3 linked regions of the Homo sapiens genome follow. The protein of the gene in region 2 interacts with the protein of the main gene of each other region in a pairwise test. Each region holds a gene or a part of one and is shown on either strand. Other genes may lie near its edges.

Evidence for each region.
Region 1: the proteins of CIMIP5 (region 2) and NRBP1 interact in binary tests that used the Homo sapiens proteins (3 or more experiments, as listed by UniProt).
Region 3: the proteins of CIMIP5 (region 2) and GSTA4 interact in binary tests that used the Homo sapiens proteins (3 or more experiments, as listed by UniProt).

The regions. Positions count from the first base shown.
Region 1 is NC_000002.12:27,438,624-27,442,870, forward strand, and holds the end of NRBP1 (nuclear receptor-binding protein), read left to right. Parts: intron 1-1,142; coding exon 1,143-1,275; intron 1,276-1,779; coding exon 1,780-1,885; intron 1,886-2,028; coding exon 2,029-2,079; intron 2,080-2,181; coding exon 2,182-2,317; intron 2,318-2,503; coding exon 2,504-2,557; intron 2,558-2,643; coding exon 2,644-2,707; intron 2,708-2,943; coding exon 2,944-2,999; intron 3,000-3,084; coding exon 3,085-3,189; 3' UTR 3,190-3,636; downstream 3,637-4,247. Other genes in the region: KRTCAP3 (keratinocyte-associated protein 3), read left to right, coding at 3,790-3,817, 3,956-4,140, 4,219-4,247. UniProt on the Homo sapiens protein: Required for embryonic development. Plays a role in intestinal epithelial cell fate and proliferation, thereby involved in the architectural development of the intestine potentially via the regulation of Wnt-responsive genes.
Region 2 is NC_000002.12:11,136,124-11,143,241, reverse strand, and holds part of CIMIP5 (ciliary microtubule inner protein 5), read right to left. Parts: intron 2,733-7,118; coding exon 2,693-2,732; intron 1-2,692.
Region 3 is NC_000006.12:52,992,201-52,999,906, forward strand, and holds the start of GSTA4 (glutathione S-transferase A4), read right to left. Parts: upstream 3,085-7,706; 5' UTR 3,049-3,084; intron 2,202-3,048; exon of another isoform or gene 2,062-2,201; 5' UTR 2,044-2,061; coding exon 1,957-2,043; intron 1-1,956. UniProt on the Homo sapiens protein: Conjugation of reduced glutathione to a wide number of exogenous and endogenous hydrophobic electrophiles. This isozyme has a high catalytic efficiency with 4-hydroxyalkenals such as 4-hydroxynonenal (4-HNE).

The sequences.
Region 1 (4,247 bases), about 16 Mb from region 2:
CAGGAAAGCAGGTTAATTGTCATGGGACATGCAGGAGGTAGAAAAGGAGGCGGTGGTGGAACATGGTGGCTCATACTTTTAATCCCAGCACTTTTGGAGGCTGAGGTGGGAGGATCACTTGAGCTCAGGAGTTCGAGACTAGCCTGGGCAACGTGGTAAAACCCTATCTCTATGAAAAAATAAAAATTATCTGGGTATGGTGGCACATGCCTGTGGTCCCAGCTACTCTGGAAGCTGAAGTGGGAGGATTGCTTGAGCCCAGGAGGTTGAGGCAGCAGTGAGCTGTGATTGTGCCACTGTACTCCAGCCTGGTTGGCACAGCAAGACCCTGTCTCAGAAAAAAGAAAGAAAGAAAATAAGGCAGAATCGTTAGAGGAATCCTGGGAAATTCGGTGAATTCAGTGATTGTGGGCAAAGGAAATTGTGATACTAGGCTTGTGAAATAAAAAAATGGTGAATATTGATCACATTGGGTAAGTTTGGGAAGAGAGAAGCTAAATTTGGCAAGATTTAGAAAAGAAGATAGGCAGTGAGTTGACTAATAAAGCAGAGAGGTAGAAACTAAGGAAAAAGAAAGTGTGGGGCCGGGCGCGGTGTCTCATGCCTGTAATACCGGCACTTTGGGAGGCTGAGGCGGGTGGATCACGAGGTCAGGAGATTGAGACCATCCTGGCTAACATGGTGAAACCGTCTCTACTGAAAATACAAAAAATTAGCCGGGCATGGTGGTGGGCACCTGTAGTCCCAGCTACTCGGGAGGCTGAGGCAGGAGAATGGCGTGAACCCGGTAGGCAGAGGTTGCAGTGAGCTGAGATTGCGCCACTGCACTCCAGCCTGGGCGACAGAGCGAGACTCCGTCTCAAAAAAAAAAAAAAAAAAAATTGTGAACATTAAAAAAGAAAGCTTGTGGTTGGAGAGCAGAAAAATAATTAAAACCAGAAAGGCAGTGGATGGTATCTTTCATATAATATCTTACAGTTTTTGAAGCCCTTTCAGGTGCATTTTTCAATATATTGTTTTCTCAGCAAGTGCTGAGCACCTACTATGTACAAAGCCTTGTGCTAAGTAGAATGAGAGCTATAAAGATGAACACACTGGGGGCTTGCCAGATGCCTGCTCCAGTTCCTTGTTTCCTTTTCTAGGAGTTCATTCAAAAGTGCCTGCAGTCTGAGCCTGCTCGCAGACCAACAGCCAGAGAACTTCTGTTCCACCCAGCATTGTTTGAAGTGCCCTCGCTCAAACTCCTTGCGGCCCACTGCATTGTGGGACACCAACGTGAGTCGTCTTGGCCCTATGGGGAATAGTCTTCCAATCTGGAGCCCTGTAACTATCACTGGCATGCTTGTTTTCCTCTTTATTTCCAAAGGGATTCTTTTTTTTTTTTTTTTTTTTTTTTTTTTTTTTTTTTGAGACAGAGTCTCACTCTCTCTCAGGCTGGAGTGCAATGGCTTGATCTCAGCTCATTGCAACCTCCAGCTCCCAGGCTCAAGCGATTCTTGTGCCTTAGCCTCCCGAAGAGCTGGGATTACAGGCATGTGCCACCATGCCTGGGTAATTTTTGTACTTTTAGTAGAGATGGGGTTTCGCCATGTTGGCCAGGCTGGTCTTGAACTGGCGTCAAGTGATCTGTCCGCCTCGGCTTCCCAAAGTGCTGGGATTACAGGCATGAGCCACTGTGCCAGGCCTCCAAAGGGATTCTTTACCCCTTTGCCTGCATGCCTTCTTTGACATTTAATCTGACTATCCCTTCATAATATCCCACTCCATCATGCCCTCCAGACATGATCCCAGAGAACGCTCTAGAGGAGATCACCAAAAACATGGATACTAGTGCCGTACTGGCTGAAATCCCTGCAGGACCAGGAAGAGAACCAGTTCAGACTTTGTGAGTAACTGAGAGGGTCTGAAAGGGGCAGATTGGTCACGACCACTCTTGAGGCTCTGTAAACTGTCCATTCTCTGGGAATGCTTGAATTTGCTATTTTGCTTGTTTCTTTCCTTCCATCTCCTTTCTCTTTTCTCGTCCAGGTACTCTCAGTCACCAGCTCTGGAATTAGATAAATTCCTTGAAGATGTCAGGTGAGAGCAGAGTGAGAAGCAGGCTTTCTTGAGGAAGCAGGCGGGGTTGGGTATCCTAAGGCGTTCACAGAGCCCATGTGACCTGTCTTCATCTCCCTCCAGGAATGGGATCTATCCTCTGACAGCCTTTGGGCTGCCTCGGCCCCAGCAGCCACAGCAGGAGGAGGTGACATCACCTGTCGTGCCCCCCTCTGTCAAGACTCCGACACCTGAACCAGCTGAGGTGGAGACTCGCAAGGTGGGGGCTGTGTGGGTGTGGATTGTCTCCATGGTTGTGGTGGAAGGGAGAGAGGACATCTCAAATAAGGCTCTATCCTTTAGAGAAAATGCTCCCTAGCAGCCATGCCCTATGGGCTCGAAAGACGTCTAGGTATTGGGTTTTTTATGGACAGGTCTCTAGAGTGACCCTCTCTTCCCTCCCTAGGTGGTGCTGATGCAGTGCAACATTGAGTCGGTGGAGGAGGGAGTCAAACACCACGTAAGGCTCAGGGCTAGGGTTGCGCAGGGCTAGTAGCCAGAGGGTAGGGAAGAAAAGTCTCATTTTCTGACTGTCCTATTCTCCAGCTGACACTTCTGCTGAAGTTGGAGGACAAACTGAACCGGCACCTGAGCTGTGACCTGATGCCAAGTGAGTCTCTCCTTTCCCTCAGAGGATGGAGAGTCTATGAGCCTTATCTTTTAGGGACATATTCAGGGGTGGGGGAGGTGACAAGGCAGTAACACATTGACTCACATAGAATGACTATCTTAGACCCTAAAGCAGTGGGTGGATCTGACTGACAGTTTAGCCCTAGTGGGGCTGTCTGAAGGGCCCCAGGTCCCTCAGTCCCGTACTGTACTCACCCCCTCCTGTTTCTTTGTCAGATGAGAATATCCCCGAGTTGGCGGCTGAGCTGGTGCAGCTGGGCTTCATTAGTGAGGTGAGGTTTCTGCCTTCATCTGCCCTGGCTGCCCCCATGCCTTCTCTTCTCTCAGCCCCCATCTTACTGAGCTCTTCTCCCCCAGGCTGACCAGAGCCGGTTGACTTCTCTGCTAGAAGAGACCTTGAACAAGTTCAATTTTGCCAGGAACAGTACCCTCAACTCAGCCGCTGTCACCGTCTCCTCTTAGAGCTCACTCGGGCCAGGCCCTGATCTGCGCTGTGGCTGTCCCTGGACGTGCTGCAGCCCTCCTGTCCCTTCCCCCCAGTCAGTATTACCCTGTGAAGCCCCTTCCCTCCTTTATTATTCAGGAGGGCTGGGGGGGCTCCCTGGTTCTGAGCATCATCCTTTCCCCTCCCCTCTCTTCCTCCCCTCTGCACTTTGTTTACTTGTTTTGCACAGACGTGGGCCTGGGCCTTCTCAGCAGCCGCCTTCTAGTTGGGGGCTAGTCGCTGATCTGCCGGCTCCCGCCCAGCCTGTGTGGAAAGGAGGCCCACGGGCACTAGGGGAGCCGAATTCTACAATCCCGCTGGGGCGGCCGGGGCGGGAGAGAAAGGTGGTGCTGCAGTGGTGGCCCTGGGGGGCCATTCGATTCGCCTCAGTTGCTGCTGTAATAAAAGTCTACTTTTTGCTAAAAGCGTCGTGTGTTCGCGCCTTTCCCGCCAGGGGGAGCGGGCCCGGGGCGGAGGCGGGGCCCAGGTGGGAGGGGGACCCGGGACGGAGGCGGGGCCCAGGTTGGGGCGGGGCCGGGCCCAGGTACAGCGGCCCTGCGGCTGGCGCGGCGGACGGGATGAGGCGCTGCAGTCTCTGCGCTTTCGGTAACTTCCGGGCCCTGGCGTCTCGTCTCCTTACCCTGGGGCTACCCTTGCCCCGTCCTACTGCCCGCGGTTAACCCGCCGCGAGCCGCCTCTCCCCTCCCCGCCCGACTCAACCCTGCCCTCCCCCGTGCTTTGCAGACGCCGCCCGGGGGCCCAGGCGGCTGATGCGTGTGGGCCTCGCGCTGATCTTGGTGGGCCACGTGAACCTGCTGCTGGGGGCCGTGCTGCATGGCACCGTCCTGCGGCACGTGGCCAATCCCCGCGGCGCTGTCACGCCGGAGTACACCGTAGCCAATGTCATCTCTGTCGGCTCGGGGCTGCTGGTGAGCGCGGCAGGCGACCCGGGCGGGGGCCGGGCTCCCGGAGAGCCCAGCAGGCCAAAGGCTTTGTGTCTTCCACAGAGCGTTTCCGTGGGACTTGTGGCCCTCCT
Region 2 (7,118 bases):
CTCAGTGCTGTACGTTACTCCATGGTGTGAACTGTACTCCATGGTGTGAACTGTACTCCATGGTGTGAACTGTGTGAATATCACACAAGTTATTCACCTGTATCACCACTGATCACACTTGGGTTGATTCTAGTTTGGGGCTTTTATGAGTAGTGCTGTTTTGGCCATATGTGAACGTGCGTTTGGGTAAACTCTGTAACGGATGCATGCATGAATGAATGACTAAATGTAATCTGATGGCCAGGCACCATGGCTCTTGCCTTTAATCCTGGCACTTTGAGAAGCCTTGGCGGAAAGATTCAGACCAGCCTGGGCAACATGGTGAGACCCCGTCTCTACAAAAAAATACAAAAATTAGTTGGGTGTGGGGGCACGTGCATGTAAGCCCCAGCTACTCAGGAGGCTGAGGTGGGAGGATCACTAGAGCCCAGGAGGTTGAGGCTGCAGTGAGCCATGATCATGCTACTTCACTCCAGCCTGGGCAACAGAGTGAGACCGTATCTCAAAAAAAAAAAAAAAAAAAAAAAATCTGACAAGTGGGAAAACATCCTCAGCTCTTCCTGCCCCTGTTTAGGGTTACCTTTCTGCTACCCTGTGTCTAATAGAAATGACATGACCTGTCAAGTAAGGAGATCATGGTTTTCACCTGGCAAAGTCCATGCCGAGGTGGCTCCACCCTTTGGCCATGATGCAGATTTCAGTAGTCAGGTTGCTATCATGTAGCCCTTAGCAGGGAGAGACTCTTACAGGCTGGAAGCCCAGACCAGATGCACAGGTCGGGATATCAGGTCCCATGAGCTGAATTTTCCCTCCAGAATAGACAGCAACAAGTCCAGCAGGTCCACAATGCAGGCATTAAAACTTTCCTCAACCTGGCAGGGTCCAGGTAAGCATGGCCACCCCCTCGAGTGACTTTCCATATTGCTCATCTTCCAGGTTGGTTCTTTGACCATCTTTTTTTTTTTTTTTTTTTTTGAGACTGAATTTTGCTCTTGTTGCCCAGGCTGGAGTGCAATGGCGTGATCTCTGCTCACTGCAACCTCTGCCTCCCAGGTTCAAGCTATTCTCCTGCCTCAGCCTCCCGAGTAGCTGGAATTACAGGCATGCACCAGCACACCCGGCTAATTTTTGTATTTTTAGTAGAGATGGGGTTTCTCCATGTTGGTCAGGCTGGTCTTGAACTCCCAACCTCAGGTGATCCACCTGCCTCGGCCTCCCAAAGTGTTGAGATTACAGGCGTGAGCCACCGCATCCAGCTGATCATCCTTTTTGTAGTGAGATCCATCTTTCCATTCATTCATTCATCCAGCATGAACTGAATGTTCACTCTTTTATGGTCTCTGGGGGATGGGGCAAATGCTAGGGTTGTGATAGGGTGCAGTGATGAATTCATATTCATCTTTTCTCTTTTTAAAAAATAATGTTATTTTTGTAGAGACAGGGTCTCCCTATGTTGCCCAGGCTGGTCTTGAACTCATGGGTCCAGGTGATCCTCCCACCTCAGCCTCCCCAAGTACAGGCATGGGCCACCATTCCTGGCCTCATCCTTTCTCTTAAGGAGTTCACAGCTGGTGAAATTGGGCATTGCAGTATTACATTACATGGAATACCAAAATAACGGGTGAGATATGCTGGTGAATCAAAGGAAGGAGTGATCTGGTCAAGCCTGCCCAGGAAGGTGAGATTCCCTAGAAGAGGGGGCACTAGAGCAGGATCTTGAAGAGTGAATAGGAGTCCATCAGGCTGACCAGGTGGAAGGACATTCCAGCAGGGGACGAGCATGCCCAAAGGCATAGATAAAAGAGTGTTGTGGGGGCTGGGTGTGGTGGCTCATGCCTGTAATCCCAGCACTTTGGGAAGCCGAGGCAGTTGGCTAATTGAGGTCAGGAGTTCGAGACCAGCCTGGCTAACATAGTGAAACCCCCTCTCTACTAAAAATACAAATATTAGCCAGGCATGGTGGTGTGCACCTATAATCTCAGCTACTCAGGAGGCTGAGGCAGGAGAATCACTAGAATCCAGGAGGTGGAGATTGCAGTGAGCCAAGATTGCACCACTGCACTCCAGCCTGGGCGACAGAGCAAGACTCCATCTCAAAAAAAAAAAAAAAAAAAAAAAAAGTGTGTTGTGGGGTCTGTGTGGGGTGGGTAATGAGGCTGGGGAGATAGATGGTTTAGATCACAGGAGGCTTTGTAAGCCACCTGAAAATTTCAGACTTACTGAAGCATTTTAATCAGGGGAGCTACATGGCCAGTTCTGCCGTTTAGGGAAATTAGTCTGGTGGCAATGTGGAGGATGGATTGGAGGTGGTGATACCAGAGTCAGGGAATTTGTTTACAAAGTATTTTTACCCAATCTCATTGTCCTTCTCGGGCACGCCACACAGATATGACTACATATTGCTGCCATCCTCAATCAGGGGAGACATTTCAGCAACAGATGCCTGTCATTTCCAATTGGTTCATCTTAATAAAATTAAGAAACACTGAGGGAAACACATTTCTAAATGCTTCATGTAACTGTTTTCTATCCAACGGACCCTGCATTCCTTGAAACAAGAGTGTATTTGACTCATCGCTGCACATCCAGTATCTGGTGTAGAGTAGATCTTCAATAAATGTTAGTTGAATGATGGAAAGAATGAGTAATATTCAATTGCAAGTATGTTTGGCAGGAACATATTTTACCTTACCATTGGGTCATAGTCTTTCAGGAAACTCCAGTTCTGAATCCTGGAAAGGAAAAACATGTTGGCTGTGTGAGTTCCTTCCAGGACATTTTTACCAATGACTTTCACTGTGTCAAGTCAATGCAACAATGTATCACGTGGAAGAACTAAATAATTTTTTTTTTTTTTTTTTTTTTTTAAGACGGAGGCTCACTCTGTCACCCAGGCTGGAGTGCCGTGGCGCAATCTTGGCTCCCTGCAAGCTCCGCCTCCCGGGTTCACGCCATTCTCCTGCCTCAGCCTCCCGAGTAGCTGGGACTACAGGCACCCGCCACCGCGCCTGGCTAATTTTTTGTATTTTTAGTAGAGATGGGGTTTCACCGTGGTCTCGATCTCCTGACCTTGTGATCCGCCCGCCTCGGCCTCCCAAAGTGCTGGGATTACAGGCGTGAGCCACCACGCCCAGCCTTTTTTTTTTTTTTTTTTTGAGAGGGAGTCTCGCTCTGTCACCTAGGCTGAAGTGCAGTGGCATAATCTCAGCTCACTGCAACCTCTGCCTCCCAGGTTCAAGCAATTCCCCTGTCTCAGCCTCCCAAGTAGCTGGGACTACAGGTGCATGCCACCACACCCGGCTAATTTTTGTATTATTAGTGTAGATGGGGTTTCACCATATTGGTCAGGCTGGTCTTGAATTCCTGACCTCAGGTGGTCCACCCACCTTGGCCTCCCAAAGTGCTGGGATTACAGGCATGAGCCACTGTGCCCAGCCAGAACAAAATAATTTTTAAGTGAAACAAATGCCAAGTGTCAAGCAGGTATTTATGGTGTATCCTACCAAAGGAACAAACATTTCAATTTCCAATGACTTTTCCTAGAACGACAAATATGATGTCACTATGGTGGGGCTGCCTAAGGAAAGCAAAGGCTACCATCTCGCCCTGCCTCTGTGCATTTCAGAAGGCTACAGTAGGCAAGCATTCTCTGAAGAAAAAAGTTTTCACATCCCCAAACCTTTGTAACTTTCCAATGTGAGTGATAGAGGAAGGCTAGGGAGAGGTAGGAAAAGGGAGGGACCATAAGGATAGTATTAGCTTGCACTGGCCATTTAGTTTTATTTGAATCTAATCTTAAAAAGTCAAACAATTCTACAAAACATAATAAAAACAGCCTTCTCTGTCCCCATCCTCACAGCCCCTGAGCCCCACATCCTAGAGTCAAACCTTTGCCAGCCTTTTAGCTGTTTCTTCAGGCCTTTGCATCCATATTTTGAAATAATAGGATTCTACTGCTGTATTATGCCATTCTTGCCTTGCTATAAATAATACCTGAGACTGGGTAATTTATAAAGAAGGTGTAGGACAGGTGCGGTGGCTCACGCCTGTAATCCCAGCACTTTGGGAAGCTAAGGTGGGTGGATCACCTGAGGTCAGGAGTTCGAGACCAGCCTGGCCAACATGGTGAAACCCTGTCTCCACCAAAAATACAAAAATTAGCCGGGCATGGTGGCGGGCGCCTGTAATACCAGCTACTAGGGAGGCTGAGGCAGGAGAATCGCTTGAGCCCAGGAGGTGGAGGTTACAGTGAGCAGAGATCAAGCCACTGCACTCCAGCCTGGGTGACAGAGTGAGACTCTGTCTCAAAAAATAAAAATAAATAAAAATAAAAATAAAAAAAAGAAGGTGTAATTGGCTAACAGTTCCACAGGCTGTACAGGAAGCAGGATGCTGGCATCTGCTTAGCTTCTGGGGTGGTCTCAGGAAACTTACAATCATGGTGGAAGGCAAAGTGGCAGCAGGCAGGTCACATGGCCAGAGCAGGAGCAAAGGAGAGAGAAGGGAAGTGCCACACACTTTAAAAGAACCAGATCTGGTGAGAACTCACTACTGTGAGGACAGTACCATGGGGATGGTATAAACCATTTATGAGAAGCCACCCGCATGATCCAATCGCCTTCCACCGGGCCCCACCTCCAAAACTGGGGATTACTATTCAACATGCGATTTGGGTGGGGACACAGATCCACACCATATCCACTGCTGTTTCTTAATATTTTTTAAAATTTAAACTTATCTATCGACTTTCTATTATGGGAGATGAAGAGTTATCATTCTTACCCCTGCCCTTCCCTTTGTTCTTTCAAAATCATTATAGATCTCAGTTAAATTGATATGTATCGTTTTGATTCTTATGATTATGTAAATGTTATCCCCTGGTGAACTAAGGAGTGCAATATACCCCAATTCTGTTCTTGTACAACCTTGTATTCTTTCTAGAGCTAATAGAGAAATTACATTTCCTCCCAATTTTATTTAGGCTTCTATGTACTGATCATTGATTTCACATGCTCCAACAAAACTGAAAAGTCCCTCTCAATATTATTTTCTACACAGTCATGTGCATCAGATAATAAACATTCCTTTAAAACCTTTCTGCCAGGCGCGGTGGCTCACGCCTGTAATCCCAGCACTCTGGGAGGCCGAGGCAGGCAGATCACGAGGTCAGGAGATCGAGACCATCCTGGCTAACACGGTGAAACCTCGTCTCTACTAAAAATACAAAAATTAGCCGGGCGTGGTAGCGGGCACCTGTAGTCCCAGCTACTTGGGAGGCCGAGGCAGGAGAATGGCGTGAACCCGGGAGGCGGAGCTTGCAGTGAGCCGAGATGGCACCACTGCACTCCAGCCTGGGTGACAGAGCAAGACTCCGTCTCAAAATAAAGAAAGAAAGAAATAAAATAAAACCTTTCTTAGACACCTCCTCAGAAGCCCCATATCCTCCTGCTCCCACTGGCCTAGCCATGCCTCAAGATCACAGGCTGGTCTTTTCCTTCACCAACACACTGGCATCCCCCTCTTTGGGAATTCCATGTCTCACTTTCTTGTTAATGCACCTGTTTTTGTGGAGCACCTACTCCAATATCTGTGGACTCATGCATTTCTTTGGTTCTGGAAAATTCTCACTTACTTTCTCTTTAGACATTCTCTCTCCCATTCTCTCCTCTGGGAGTTTTGATTAAAGATAGGTTGGACCTTCTTGTTCAGTTTCTCTACGTTTTTAATTCGTCATTTGTGTTTTCTGTCTTGATTTTCTGAATAATTTCTCCTGTCTTGAGTTTATGAAGTCTCACTTCAGTTATGTCTTATATTTCAACTTTATATATTTTTATTTCTACAAGTTCTTTTTGTTTTTTGTTTTTTTTTGAGATGGAGTCTCACTCTGTCACCCAGGCTGGAGTGCAGTGGCACAATCTCGGCTGATTGCAGCCTCTGCCTGCCGGGTTCAAGCAATTCTCCCTGCGTCAGCCTCCTGAGTAGCTGGGATTACAGGTGCACACTACCATGCCTGGCTAATTTTTGTGTTTTTAGTAGAGATGGGGTTTCACCATGTTGGCCAGGCTAGTCTCGAACTCCTGACTTCAGGTGATCTGCCCACCTCAGCTTCCCAAAGTGCTGGGATTATAGGTGTGAGCGATTGTGCCCGACCTCTTGTTTCATTTTTATAAGCAGGCTACTAGAAAATTTAAGCTATGTGTGTGGCTCACATTGTATTTCCGTTGGGCAGCACTGCCTTGCACATTCCTCTTTGGGCTTTCCAGGCCTTGCAAAACTCTTTCCCCTTGGTCTTTATGCCTCCTTGTGCCCCTGGCTTTCTTCTCTGGTGTTTCCTGGCAGCGTCTCTGCCCTTCTAGTAAATGTTACAAGTTCTGTCCTGCATCCTCGCCTCTTCTGATCCATTGTGCTCTTCCAGAGAGAGCTTATTCACATCGCTGGGGCCAATGCCCACCCGTTTCCTTCTAAAATTGAGATAGAATTCACATTCCATAAGATTCACCTTTTAAAGGACACAATTAAATGACTTTTAATATATTCACGGAGTTGGGCAACCATCACCACTTTCTGATTCCAGAACATTTCATCACCCCCAAAACACCTGTGTCCATTTGCAGTCAGTCCTCATCCTCCAAAACACCTGTGTCCATTTGCAGTCAGTCCTCATCCTCCCCTTCTGGATGGGTTTTTAATGCGCAACTCCTGACTCTCACACTCAACTACCTCCTGGGCAGCTCCATCTAGACGTGGTTCAGGCATTTAAAACTCACCAGAACTCAGCATCTTCATCATTTTCTTCTCCTCCTTATTAATTATTCAAGCTGAGACCTGTCATCCTTTACTCCTTCCTCACCTTTCCTCCCACATTTACTCAGTTTGTAAATATTTTCTGTCATTCTGTAAGTTGCCTTTTCACTCTGTTAATTGTTGTCTTTGCTGTGCAGAAGTTTTCACATGCAAAAGAATGAAATTGGATCCTTTCTAACATGATACATACCAATCCAGTCAAAAACATAGGAAGAAGCTTCATGACATTGGTCTTGGCAATTATTCCATGGATATGCCACACAAAGGACAGGCAACAAAAGCAGATAGACAGATGGGATTACATCAAACTCAAA
Region 3 (7,706 bases), on a different chromosome or scaffold from region 2:
CCTGAAAGAGCACCAGTGGCTAAAGCTGAAACAATTTAGGCAATTTAAGTCATCAGACTATAATCTAAAATATAAAATCAATATACTTAGGTCTATAGTGACACAAAGAATTGAATAACTGAAGAAATGAGTGGAGATAAATCTTCCTTATATAAAAATTCCAAATGTAGATACTCCCTCACCCAGGAGGTAGAGCTTAATTCTCATCATTTTGAATGTGGGCTGGACTTCATGATCTGCTTCAGAAGAATACAAGGAAACATAGTAACTTTAAAATGCAGCAACCTGGCAGAGACTACCTTAACCATGTGATCCAGGTTAATACTGCCAGTGACAACTCATGTTGATACGTAACCCCTAATATGATGACGTGAACATACTTCACCTCTGTGGCATTCTTTCCCCAAACCCATAACCTCAGTCTAATCATGAAAAAAACAAGATAAACCCAATTTGTAGAGGATTCTACAAAAATATCTGACCAGTGCTTTTCAAAACCGTCAAGATGGTAAAATGAAGGAAACGACTGGGAAATTGTCATGGATTGTTGGCAACTATGGAAACAGGATGAATAAATATAATGTTGGATCGCGGGATAGTAAAAGGACATTAGCAAAGGGCCGGGCGTGGTGGTTCACACCTGTAATCCCAGTACTTTGAGAGGCCCAGGTGGGTGCATCACTTGAGGTCTGGAGCTCAAGATCAGCCTGGCCAACATGGAGAAACCCTGTCTCTACTAAAAAAATACAAAAATTAGCTGGTCGTGGTGGTGTGCACCTGTAGTCCCAGCTACTAGGTAGGCTGAGGCAGGGGAATTGCTTGATCCTGGGAGGCGGAGGTTGCAGTGAGCCGAGATCACACCACTGCACTCCAGCCTGGGCTACAGAGCCAGCCTCCGTCAAAAAAAAACCCAGAACATTAGTAGAAAAAACAGTGAAATCTGAATAAAGTCTGTAGTTTAGTTAGTCATGCACCAATGTTAATTTCGTAATATGACATGGTGATGTAAGATGTTATCATTAAGGGAGACTGAATGAGGGACTGTATTATTTTACAACTTTTCTATAAATCTGAAAATATTCCCAAATATAAATTTGTAAAAAATGAAGAGGAAACTTACAGGTTTTTAAAATACCGAAAGAAACATAACCATTTTAAATGTAATGCGTAGACCAATGTCTAGATCCAAACTAAAACAAACTATAAAAACAAACAAACAAACAAAATGCCTGTTTGAGACAATCAGACTGAAGGTTAGATGACAAAGAATTGCTAATTTTGTTGGATGTGATAATAATATTGTTACATTTTAAAATCCTCATCTGTTAGAGGAAAATGTTGAGGAACTCCCAGATGAAATGTTATGATGTTTGGATTTTGCTTTAAAATACTCCCACAAAACAAGGGAAGGGAGGTGATAGATGAAACAAGATTAGCATAGAGCTGATGATTGCTGAAGTCGGGTGATGAGTACATAGAATTCATGGCAATGTTCTCTCTACATTTATTGGTATTTGAAAATTTCCATACTAAGAAGCTAAAAGAACAGAACGAAAACAAAAACAGACACACACACATATGTAAGCAAGATACCAAGGCTGCCAGTTTGAAGCCACTGAAGAAAACAAGAAATTTACCCTGAGAATGCATAATTAATAAGAGCTCAGAGTAACTGACAATTTTCAGGTAAATTTCCTTTCTTCTTATTAATAAATATTCACTGGTGCTAGATCAGAAGCCAATAATTAAGTAAAAGTCAAAAGGAAAATAGAATTCCATCAACTACGTTCTAATTATAAAGAAAAATCCCTTCAGGGATGGTATCTGACTCAGTGAAGCGTGCCTGTGATTTTGGTGGACGAGAACTAGAACTGAACGGTGCTTCAAAACGTATTTTTCTTTCAAAGGTCTCAAAAGCTGTATGACAAATCCGTGAAGAAACAGCATATAAGGTACCTCGACTCCGGCGGCAGCTAAAACCCATCTCACGGACTCCATCCGGCCTCTTCCGTTGGGATAGTGGAGCTTGGGCCTTGCTGCCATGATAGCTTTTCAGGCTTTCTGAAATACAAATGCAGCAGCTCGTCGCAGACCAACAGTCCCAATTTCGCGTCTTCAACCCAGTGCTCAGGGGCGAAATGAATATTCAGGATTTTGGCACGGGAAACTGTTCTTTATTTTTGTTGCTGCATTTTCCCTCACTCAAGAAAAAAAAACCACCATTTTAAAACATGGAGAAAAAAACCTTGGCTTTTATATGATTTCTATTTATGACTTCTTATCCTGGATCTTGGGAAGCTGGGGCCATTTGTTGTAAAAACATATGTGCTAGCAGTACGGGATTTCACAAATTCAGAATATTATATATTTTGACCTCGAGAATCTCAGATTTTCCAAATTCAGCTGGGGGATAGGGGGTGGCAGGCGTTGAAGAGGGTAGCGAAGGAAAATCGCACAGCCACTGGAAGCTCTTCAAGTATTCATGCTTTTACATACATCATCATATTTTATTATCACGGCAACTGGAAGGTGAACAGGCCGAGTACTACTACTGTCTGCAAAATGTGCGTCCACCGTCACGCATGCGGTGGCTGCGCCCCCCGGGTCCCGCGTGTCCACCACCCCTACAGGGAGATGAGCCCCCGGCCTTGTAAAACGAGCCGGGGGCCAGGGCTTGGCCATCTGAGATCGCACTCTCCCATGCTCGTCTTCCCCGCTCAGCCCATGCAGGGGCGTAGCGGCAGCCCAGCCAGGCCCGGGGACGATCCGAGCCCACCTTCCACCAATGCATTCAGACTCCGCAGAAGGGGTTTAAAAAAAAATACGCACACTGAGCCAAGAAGGACCCCAGCTCCAGCCAAGGGGCCCACCTCTGCCCAGACTGGATGGAGCAGGAGGACAAAGGACAAGAGGAAGAAAAGACAAGAGAAGGACTGAACTGGGGGAGTGAGGGAAGAATGCGAGAGTGAGACTCAGAGAGTAAAGGGGAGGGAAAAAAAAGAAGAGAGAAAGGGCGAGGAAGGGGGCGACCGCAGGAGGGAGACAGACCTGGAGTCCACTCGGAGGCCTGGAGCCGCACAAAGCGCCAGGTCAGCGGTCCCGGCTGGGTGAGACCAGCAGGCGGCTCTAGCGCGCGGGAGCTGGGCGAGGCTCCGGGACGACCTCACCAATGGAGACTGCAGTATTTAGCATGCCCCACCCATCTGCAAGGCATTCTGGATAGTGTCAAAACAGCCGGAAATCAAGTCCGTTTATCTCAAACTTTAGCATTTTGGGAATAAATGATATTTGCTATGCTGGTTAAATTAGATTTTAGTTAAATTTCCTGCTGAAGCTCTAGTACGATAAGCAACTTGACCTAAGTGTAAAGTTGAGACTTCCTTCAGGTTTATATAGCTTGTGCGCCGCTTGGGTACCTCGGATGTGAGGGCGATCTGGCTGCGACATCTGTCACCCCATTGATCGCCAGGGTTGATTCGGCTGATCTGGCTGGCTAGGCGGGTGTCCCCTTCCTCCCTCACCGCTCCATGTGCGTCCCTCCCGAAGCTGCGCGCTCGGTCGAAGAGGACGACCATCCCCGATAGAGGAGGACCGGTCTTCGGTCAAGGGTATACGAGTAGCTGCGCTCCCCTGCTAGAACCTCCAAACAAGCTCTCAAGGTCCATTTGTAGGAGAACGTAGGGTAGTCAAGCTTCCAAGACTCCAGACACATCCAAATGAGGCGCTGCATGTGGCAGTCTGCCTTTCTTTTGACCCATTACCCATCTAAGTTAGATGCTTTTTTAAATGTTTTTTAATTTTTAAATTTTTAATTTTTTTCATTATTTATTTTTTATTTTTGAGACGGATCTCGGCTCACTGTAACCTCCACCTCCCGGGTTCAAGCGATTCTCCTGACTCAGCCTCCCGAGTAGCTGGGATTACAGGCGCGCGCCACCATGCCCGGCTAATTTTTCTATTTTTAGTAAAGACGGGGTTTCGCCATGTTGACCAGGGTGGTCTTGAACTCCTGACGTCAGGTGATCCTCCTGCCTCGTGCTGGGATTGCAGGCGTGAGCCACCGCTCCCGGCCCTTAGATGCTTTTTAATCAGCAAGTACGCAATGCTTTCCTGACAGGAATGTCAAGTCCGTCAGGAAATCCACATAAGGGTGTTAAGCAGGCAAAGTACCACATACAGATTAAAATCAAAAGCACTGTCAACGCTTATTTAATTTATACAGTAGACCCTAACTTTTCTAATTTTGTGTATACATATATATACATGTATACATGTATACAAACATACATATTTTCTTCTTTCTTTCTTCATCTCAGTGGGACATCTTGAGATTTCTCTTCATTTTGTACATTTTAGAGACAAGTGCTCTATAGTCACGGTCTCAAGTCAGCACCTGTTTGGAAGGGGGTCTTTGGAGTTGGGGGTGGTGCTAAAAGAATAATTTGGCTGGCAAGTTAGTTAAAACATTAAAAATATATTAAAACTATCAGGGCTATATTATGGAACAATTGCAAAATTCACATGGATTTCAAAGTTTGAAATATATGCCTTCGAAAATAAATTTTGTTTTTAGAGGCAGCTTCTGCTATTTCTCAGGCTATAGATGTTGTTATTTTCTTCACCCACGGGGGCGCTCGAGAGTACCTTGCTTGACAAGCCTGGGTGCTGAACAATTGCAGCCGCTAACATGATCAGATTTTATTTTCAATAGGTTTCTCTGGCCAAAGTGAGGCGAATGAATTGGGGTAGTAGGGGTAGAGAAAGAAACCTCTTGTGTCTGTGTAAATTAAAGTAGCACCATGAGTTTGAAGAATATGAGTAAGAAAAGGTGAAATACTAAGGAGGTAGGTGGTAAAGCAATTGCTAATCAGATCAAAGGGAAGGGAGGAGGAAGAAAAGTCTAGAATGATGCCCTGTCCAACACACACACACACACACACACACACACACACACACACACACACACACACACACACTTCTTGTCTTTTTTTTAATAACATGTATTGTCATCTAACAGGACTTTTTTATTTATTTGTCTGTAGATTCCTAGAATGTAAATTCCACGAGATCGAGGATTTTTGCGCTTTTGGTTTTCCTTTTGTACATCCTGGTTAGTATAGAGTAGGTATTCAGAGAACACTTGTTGAATGAATGAATGAGCAATGCTTTGGTTTCTAGTTCCATAAAGAGCGGAGAAGGAAGACAAAGTTTGGGGAAAATGGGTTGACTTGTCTTTTGTTGCTATGAACCATCCAGCTGGAAATACCCACTAGACAGTTGAAAAAGCCATTGAGGGCTGGGCGCAGTGGCTCACGCCTGTAATCCCAGCACTTTGAGAGGCTGAGGCGGGCGGATCACCTGAGGTCAGGAGTTCAAGACCAGCGTGGCCAACATGGTGAAACCCTGTTTCCACTAAAAATACAAAATTAGTCGGGCGTGGTGGCCTGTTCCTGTAGTCCCAGCTATTCAGGAGGCTGAGGCGGGAGAATCGCTTGAACCTGGAAGGCGGAGGTTGCAGTGAGCCGTGATCACGCCCCTGCAGTACAAGCTGGGCGAGAAAGTAAGACTCCCTATAAAAAAAAAACCGAAAAGACAAAAACCAACCCAGTGAGGACTCAGTAGAGAGAACTGAAATCGGTTGAATTGGTGGCAAAAGAATGAGCTCATCCAGAGAAGGTATGCAGGGTAAGAAGAGAGGTAAGTCAAGGACCACTGGGCACCCCAAAAGTCAGAAAAGTCGTTTTCAAAAAAGACTTAACAGTGTATATCCAATCATATTTCTAGTTCTGATTTAACAGCAATTACTCAGTTTAACATGAGTAGGAAGCCATATTTTCCAGCCTTGCTGAAAGTGGTCATTCTTTTTTTCTTGCTTTTAGTTTATAATTAAGGAAGGTTTATTGAACATCTGTGCTGAGGTCTACTGGATTTACTGAGACATAAAAAATAAATTATAAAATCCAGTTCTTGCCCTCAAGGAGCTTATTTTTTAATTGACAAATAAAATTGTATATTTTTACTGTGTACAACATGATATTTTAAAGTACAGTCATCCCTCAGTATCTGTGGGGGATTGGTTTCAGAACCCCCTCAGCTACCAAAATCAGACCATGCTCCAGTCCCTTATATAAAACGGTGTAGTATTTGCATGTAACTTAACACACATCCTTTGGTTTACTTTAAATCATCTCTAGATTTTTTATGTTAACCTAAATAACAAACAGAAAGAGGCTCTTTAAAAATATTTATTTGGAAATTGAATTTTGCAATAGGAATATGCATGCCATAGTAAATTATGTGTGTATTCAGGGAGGTAAAATAAAACAAAGATTTTTAAAGGACAAAAATGACGATGGCATAATTGTTTTAAAATAAGTATCCTTTGCTGCAAAGATGAATAACAAGGGCAATAATCCCAGTATTTTTTTGTGTAAGACTGCAATGGCCATTGTGGAAGGTTGTGGTTCTTATAGTCTTTTGTGATCGTGTGTTGTTGTTGTTGTTGTTGTTGTTGTTGTTTGTTTGTCTTTTGGAGACAGGGTCTTGCTGTATTGCCCAGGCTGGAATGCAATGGTGCGATCAGGGCTCACTACAGCTTCGAGGCTCAAGTGATCCTCCCACCTCAGCCTCCTGAGTAGCTGAGACTACAGGCGCATGACACTACTGGCTAATTTTTAGTTTTTGTAGAGAAGGGGTCTAACTATGCTGCCCAGGCTGGTCTCAAACTCCTAGGCTCAAGTGATCCTCCCACCTCTGCCTCTTAAAGTGCTGTGATTACAGGCATGTACCTCTGCACCTGGCTTTTGTGATTGCTTTTATTAGACATTTAAGCCAAGCACTTGTCTCCATTTGCTTAGTTCCAACTGGTTGAATTATACCAAATTGCTAATATCTTACTGTTTTTAACCTTCAAAAATGGCAGTTTCAGATGTCCAATCTTATAAAATAGAGGCAACATCATCCTAGAGTTAGGGAAACAGGAGTGTAGGAGAGCCAGGGTGACAGCATTTTAAAATCAACTCCATCTTACAATGAGAACACATAGACACAGGGAGGGGAACAACACACACCAGGGCCAGTCGGGGGGTGGGGGAGTGAGGGGAGGGGGAGCATTAGGACAAATATCTAATACATACCGGGCTTAAAACCTAGATGATGGGTTAATAGGTGCAGCAAACCACCATGGCACACTACACCATGGCACAACTACACGTTGTGCGCTTGTATTCTGGAACTTAAACTAGATTAAAAAACAAAAAAATCAGCTCCATCTTAAGATGTCTACAGCTGAGGAAATAGCTTAATAATACCTGGAAGGACAAATTCCTATGACAGTAGAATGTCCAGATGTTCCAATATTGCATAATGCTAAACACCTTTAAGGTAATTATAGTCATGCTTTCACGTATTTACGCATGAAAATGCCAAGGATACCTTTCTTTAAATTAACAAAGTACTAATTTTTTTCATTCTGTTAGCCCACTCGCACGTAGACATTGCTTAGCTTACCTTTTACAGAGATAAGACCCCTATCGAATAAAAACAAAGAAGAGGCATTCCTCCTCTTGCTTTCTGAGAATGCTCTACTCTGTAACTGAGTAGCTTTCAATAAAATGTTACTTCTCATGGCACTGGGTGACTCGCCTTACATTCCTTCCTGTGCGAGATCCAAGAACCCTCTTTTAGGATCTGGATCAGGACACCTT